2 linked regions of the Homo sapiens genome follow. The protein of the gene in region 2 purifies or fractionates together with the protein of the main gene of each other region. This does not show direct contact. Each region holds a gene or a part of one and is shown on either strand. Other genes may lie near its edges.

What was found. The genes of interacting proteins can lie anywhere in the genome.
Region 1: the proteins of WDR37 (region 2) and SGF29 purify together in Homo sapiens (affinity purification with mass spectrometry; 5 studies listed by BioGRID and IntAct, with this or other methods). This does not show direct contact.

Annotation. Positions count from the first base shown.
Region 1 is NC_000016.10:28,577,920-28,581,419, reverse strand, and holds part of SGF29 (SAGA-associated factor 29), read right to left. Parts: intron 366-3,500; 5' UTR 351-365; coding exon 276-350; intron 1-275. UniProt on the Homo sapiens protein: Chromatin reader component of some histone acetyltransferase (HAT) SAGA-type complexes like the TFTC-HAT, ATAC or STAGA complexes.
Region 2 is NC_000010.11:1,104,885-1,108,384, forward strand, and holds part of WDR37 (WD repeat-containing protein 37), read left to right. Parts: intron 1-241; coding exon 242-383; intron 384-3,500. UniProt on the Homo sapiens protein: Required for normal ER Ca2+ handling in lymphocytes. Together with PACS1, it plays an essential role in stabilizing peripheral lymphocyte populations.

The DNA.
Region 1 (3,500 bases), on a different chromosome or scaffold from region 2:
AACCACTGGATTATACACTTTAAATGGGTGCGTTGTATGGCATGTGAATTCTATCTCAGGATAGCTGTCAAACAAAATGAATCATGAAATCCTGTACATGGTAGAAAATCCAACAGGAATGGTAGCCATACACCAAATTCCCCTCCTTTCACTTTTATTACGTCATTTTGGTTCCTGCGAGTCCAATCTCTCTGAACACAAATGCCACCCCCACTTCACGGCTCAGCATCAAAGCCCATGTTCCCATCTGGGAATGGAGGGTGGTGACTTTTTACCTGGGTTTGTTTGATCAGCTGATGGAGCTCTGTGAGAAGTTCTGCAATGCGGGAATCGGCAGACACGAGGGCCATTGTCTACAGGGGCACCTGGTGGGGGAGCGAGGACAGAAGAGAACTCTGTTAGTGGCTGCTGTGGGCTGAACTGTGCCCCCTCAAAAGATACATTAGGCCTGGAGGCTCATGCTGTAATCCCAGCACTTTGGGAGGCCAAGGCGGGAGGATTGCTTGAGGCCAGGAGTTCAAGACCAGCCTGGGCAACACGGAGACCCCGTCTTTACAAAAAAATTAAAAACTTAGCCCGGCATAGTGGCACACATCTGTAGTCCCAGCTATTCGAGAAGCTAAGGTGAGTGGATCGCTAGGCCCTAGGGGGTTGAGGCTGCATGAGCTACGATCGTGCCATTGCACTCCAGCCTACATGACAGTGTGACACCCTATCCCTTTAAAAGATAGTAATAATAAAAAGATACATTGTAGTCCTAACCATGGTACCTGTAATGTCACCTTGTTTGGAATTAGGGTCTTTGGAGAAGTATTTAAGATGTCACTAAGATGAAGTCATAGTGGAATAGGGTGTGCCCTTAATCCAGACACACAGCCAGGTGCAGACAGAAGCAGCGACTGGACTTGGACAGCTGCAAGCCAGGGGATGCCAAGGACTGCCGGCAGCCACCCATCCAGCCGGGAGAGATGCGCGGAGTAACGGCCCCGTCTAAGCCTCCAAGAAGCAACAATCCCTTGTCTTTGGAACCAAGCTGACATCTTGATTTTGGAATTATGGCCCCTAGAACTGTGATGGAATAAATTTCTCTTGTCTTAAGCCACCCAGCTTGCAGTAACTTGTTATGGCAGCCATAAGAAATGAATACAGTGGCAAGCTATCCTTGGATTCTCCTCCACCCTATTGATATGTTTGAATGTCATATGTTCGACGAAGTCAAGGAGTCAAGGAGTGTATAATTTTTGTATATAAATACAAAAATTAATATGAAGTGCCTTAAAAAGATAGCATGCCCTTAGCCCCTGCTCTGCTGCCAATATCCTGACAAATGATTCAAACATTTCTGGTATCCATATTTTAATCTGTAAAATGGGGATCATCTCTGCTATATTTTGGGAGATTCAAATAAGATTTTATATGAAGACACTTTCCAAGTCATAAAACGCTGTTACTTTCTTACTATAGTGGGAAGATAATTTTTTTTTTTTTGAGACGGGAGTCTTGCCCTGTCACCTAGGCTGGAGTGCAGTGGTGTGATCTTGGCTCACTGCAATCTCTGCCTCCCAGGTTCAAGCAATTCTCCTGCCTCAGCCTCCTGAGTAGCTGAGATTACAGGTGTGTGCCACCATGTCCAGCTAATTTTTGTATTTTTAGTAGAGATGGGGTTTCACCATGTTGGCCAGGCTGGTCTCAAACTCCTGACCTCAGGTGATCTGCTTGCTTCAGTCTCCCACAGTGCTGGGATTACAGGCGTGAGCCACCACGCCCAGCCAGCATGGGGAGAGAAACTACTGTAAAATATCTCAATCAAGATGAATGTACTCTGATGAAAATAAAATGCTTCTGTACAATAAAAGATAATTAGGGCCGGGCGTGGTGGCTCATGCCTGTAATCCCAGCACTTTGGGAGGCCGAGGAGGGCAGATCATGAGGTCAAGAGATCAAGACCATCCTGGCCAACATGGTGAAACCTTGTCTCTACTAAAAATACAAAAATTAGCTGGGCATGGTGGTGGGCACCTGTAGTCCCAGCTACTCAGGAAGCTGAGGCAGGAGAATTGCTTGAACCCGGGAGATGGAGGTTGCAGTGCGCCGAGATCACGCCACTGCACTCCAGCCTGGCGACAGAGTGAGACTCCGTCTCAAAAAAAAAAAAAAAAAAAGATAATTAGAACAAGAGTAAAAAGACAACCAAAAGTAATCAAGAGTGTAAGTTACAAGTAGGTGAAAATAGACATATGCCTCAAGATAAAGGTATATTTGATAAAATAAGGGGATATTTTTTACAGTGCTAAAATTTTGCACAATAGCCTGCATCTTACAAAGTTTGTTCAAGCTGGGGGCAGTGACTAACACCTGTAATCCCAGCACTTTGGGAGGCGAAGGTAGGAGGATGGTTTGAGTCCAGGAGCTCGAGATCAGCCTGGACAATACAGCAAGACCCTGTCTCTATTTTTATTTTTTATTTATTTATTTTTTGAGATAGAGTCTTGCTCTGTCGCCCAGGCTAGAGTGCAGCGGTGCGATCTCTGCTCACTGCAACCTCGGCATCCTGGGTTCAAGCGATTCACCTGCCTCAGCCTCCAGAGTAGCTGGGATTACAGGCACCCGCCACCTTGCCTGGCTAATTTTTTGTATTTTTAGTAGAGACGGGGTTTCACCATCTTGGCCAGGCTGGTCTCAAACTCCTGACCTCGTGATCCACCCACCTCGCCCTCTTTTTTTTTTTTTTTTTTAAAGTTGTTCAACTAACACATCCTCCTACTCACAGAGATCAGATTCACGATGAATGGAGTAAACTCTTCCCCCCACTTAATCAACTGCGAACCTCTCGCCATGTATTTATTCATATCTTCTTACATGCTCTGCTGCTGCTATTTAAAAGTATAATAACATACAAACTAGGAATAGAGGGTAACCTCCTCAACCTGATGAAGGGCATCTATGAAAAACCCACAACGAACATCAGACTTAAAGGCGAAAGATTAAAAGCTTTCCCCTAAGTCAGGAACAAGATGAGCATGGGCCCTTGTCATTTCTAGTCAACATTGTTCTGGAGGCTCTCGCCAGGGCAATGAGGCAATAAGATGAAATAAAAGGCATCCACATTGGAAAGGAAGAAGTACAACTATTTCTATTTGCAGATGACATGACCTTGTATATAGAAAACCCTAAGGAATCCATTAAACAACTATTAGGACTAAGACAAGGTTAGAACTCATAGCAAAGTTGCAGGATACGAGATCAATAAACAAAACTCAATTGTGGCCAGGCCCCAGAGGCTCACGCCTGTAATCCCAGCACTTTGGGAGGCTGAGGCGGGAGGATCACTTGCAGCCAGGGGTCCAGACGAGCCTAGGCCACCAGACGAGCCTGAGCCCCACTTCTACTTTATAAATTTTTTAACTTTAAAAAAAGAAAGCTACAGTAATCAAGATGTTGTAAGCAAAGACATCTAGTTCAATGGAATAGAACTGAGAAACCAGAAATGGTCGACTAAT
Region 2 (3,500 bases):
GGGTCAGAAAATGGGTTATGCACCTGTTTGGTTTTCTGTTCCTTTGACATGGACGGCTGAAAGGACTTCAGCTTCTGAGGGAAAACCTGCCCCACTGTGACCCACATGCTGCTGAGTGATTCCATTAGGTCAGGTTCACAGTCTCAGAGAGACGGCTTCTTGGGTTCTTGTGCTGTTGAAAAGCGTCTCTCTCAGCGTGCTCCTCAGGTGATGACCTTGTGTTTTGCCATCTTGGTTACAGGGCACGACCAGGAGTTGACGCACTGCTGCACACACCCCACCCAGCGGCTCGTGGTGACCTCCTCCCGTGACACGACTTTCCGCCTCTGGGATTTCAGGGACCCCTCCATCCACTCGGTGAATGTTTTCCAGGGACACACGGAGTGAGTTGCGGTAGTTTAGACATCTGTCCTTAGTCATGAAAAAGTTCTGTGGGTTGACATGAAAACTTAATTCTAGCCTTAATTTTCAGTATTTCCGACTCTACTATCTTTCAAAAAAATAACTACCTTTCAAATTCTGCTATTCTTTTTCTAAACATTTAGCTCCATTTTGGCTATTTCAAAGGATGTAGGAGATTAAGAGAAGGCACCCTCCGAAGTTCTCTCAAGAAGTTTAATGCAGACAGAATGGGGGAGTGGGTGGAGAGGGTTAGAGAAGAGCAGGGCTGCCAGAGCCTGTAGCTGAGCACAGGGGCCGGCCACGCCACCATAGGAGCCGCGGGAGCTGTTACTCCTACCCACGGGGTGTCTCCTGGATCTTTTCCATCTAGTTTTTGTTATTACACGTGTCTGCGTGGTATATTCTGGGAGAAGGTATACACATAGACGCGCAAACACAGACATAGACCCTCAATCCAGTGTGTCCCTCTCTGCTTGGGTTTCTCTCCGGCAACTCAAGTGTAAGGTCTTTTTTTTCTGAGACGGAGTCTCGCTCTGTCGCCCAGGCTGGAGTGCAGTGGCGCTATCTCGGCTCACTGCAAGCTCCGCCTCCCGGGTTCACGCCATTCTCCTGCCTCAGCCTCCCGAGTAGCTGGGACTAGAGGCACCTGCCACCACGCCTGGCTAGTTTTTTGTATTTTTAGTAGAGATGGGGTTTCACCGTGATAGCCAGGATGGTCTCGATCTCCTGACGTCGTGATCCGCCTGTCTCGGCCTCCCAAAGTGCTGGGATTACAGGCGTGAGCCACCGCGCCCAGCCGTGTAAGGTCTTAACAGAACTCTTCAGTTCTTTCCGTGACCGTCTCCTTCCCCCAGTCTGGCCCTGCTCAGTCAATGATGAGACCGTCTGCCCAGTCACGGGGGCTGTCTACCTAGAGTGTTCCCTGGTTCTTCTCTTTTAATCTCTGTTCCCCGTTCCCCCATCATGCCCCACTGTGGTCCACTGGCAAGTCTCCTGCCAGCCATGCCTGTGGGATCTTCCCGGCCGCTCCTCGCTCCTCCATGCTCCCCCTACCTCCCACCAGTGCTGCTCTCCACCCCGACGTCTGGATAAGCAGTGTGCATTGAAAGGTTTATAAATGAACTCCAAATATGAAAATCTGTTTTATATGTTTAACGTTAGTTACTAAGTTTTAGATTTAATGTTCAAAATGTTAGTAAGATGTTGGAAAGGAAAATAGGACTTTTTGTTTGTTTGTTTGTTTGTTAATAGACGGAGTCTCTTTCTGTCGCCCGGGCTGGAGTGCAGTGGTATGATCTCGGCTCACTGCAGCCTCTGCCTCCCGGGTTCAAGCGATTCTCCTGCCTCAGCCTCCCTAGTAGCTGGGATTACAGGCGCCCACCACCATGCCTGGTTAATTTTTGTATTTTTAGTAGAGGTGGGGTTTCACCATGTTGGTTGGGCTGGTCTTGAACTCCTAACCTCAGGTGATCCGCCTGCCTCAGCCTACCAAAGTGCTGGGATTATAGGTGTGAGCCATCGCGTCTGGCCAGGACAACGTTTTTAAAAAGAAGCTTGAGATTGGAAAGCTAATTCCTTGACTCTGAGGCTGGAACGGGAGCAGGCAGCAGTCACGACCATGCGTAGAGATCTTTATGGCAGCCTGGGTCTGTTCTGGGGGCATCACACGCATTAAACTGCTCCGTCCTGACATCAGGTCAGCGTTTATTCTGCCAGCTCCGTCAGCGATAGCCATAGTAATACAGACCTCCCGGTGGTCAGTGGCTGAACGCAGCACTGTGTTGTTGCTGCATCAGGGTGCAGCAGGCGCTGAGCTGGGCCCCCATGAGCTCCGCCACATGGGCCTGACCCCGCTGCAGGCCAGCTCATTGGTGAGGAAGATGCTGCAGCTCGGGGAGCGCTGCTTCCCATGCATGTTAGCTTGGATGTGGTGCTCCCCGACGTCCACCAGATGCAGAGGGGCCCCACAGCAAAGCCCTGGCTGGACCTGGGCCCACCACCTGGCACCACTGTGTAGGGCGGGGCAGAGGGGCCCGCATGACTGCCCTGCTGTTTCTCATGAGAATTCATTGGAAGGGCAGTCGGAGGCCTAGAGGACGGGAGGAGCAAGATGGTCTCACTCCTGCGCCTGCAGTGCTTTCCTAAGCTTTTTGCTTAGAAAAGTTTCAAGCCTACATAAAAACCAACAGAGTAGTACAGTGTACCCACAAACCCTTCACCTAGGTTCGCCTGTTGTATTGCAGCACTGCTGTCTCTTTACACATGTGTACACACCTCTCTCTGAAACACACGCCCACTAACCCTTCACCTAGGTTCACCTGTTGTATTGCAGCACCGCTGTCTCTTTACACATGTGTACACACCTCTCTCTGAAACACACGCCCACTAACCCTTCACCTAGGTTCACCTGTTGTATTGCGGCACTGCTGTCTCTCTTTACACATGTGTACACACCACTGTCTGTAACACACAACACGCACTACCCTGTCACCTAGGTTCGCCTGTTGTATTGCAGCACTGCTGTCTCTCTTTACACATGTGTACACGCCTCTCTCTGAAACACACGCCCACTTCCCCTTCACCTAGGTTTGCCTGTTGTTGTATTGCAGCACTGCTGTCTCTATTTACACATGTGTACACACCTGTCTGTAACAGACACGCCCACTTATCCTTCACCTAGGTTCACCTGTTGTTGTATTGCAGCACTGCTGTCTCTGTAGATGTGTACACACCTCTGTCTATAACACACACTTGTATATTTTCTTTGGCTGAGCCCTTTGAAAGGAAAACTCCAGCATGCATTTTCTAAGAATAAGGATGTTCTCCTAATACAGTACCATTGTTCAAATAAGAAAATTAGTAAAAATTCTATGGCATCCTTTATCTGGTCCACATTTAAATTTACTCAGTTCTCCCCAAAATGTCTTTGATACTTTTTTTAGAGCTAGGATTTAATCAGGATTCTCTCATCACATTTAGATATTATGTCCTTTGGCTTCTTTTAATCTAGAATGGTCCTTCCCCCATTTTTTGTTACTTTTTAGGATATTGAGTTTTTTGGTGAAGAATCCAAGCCTGCTCTTTTGCAGAACGCCCCT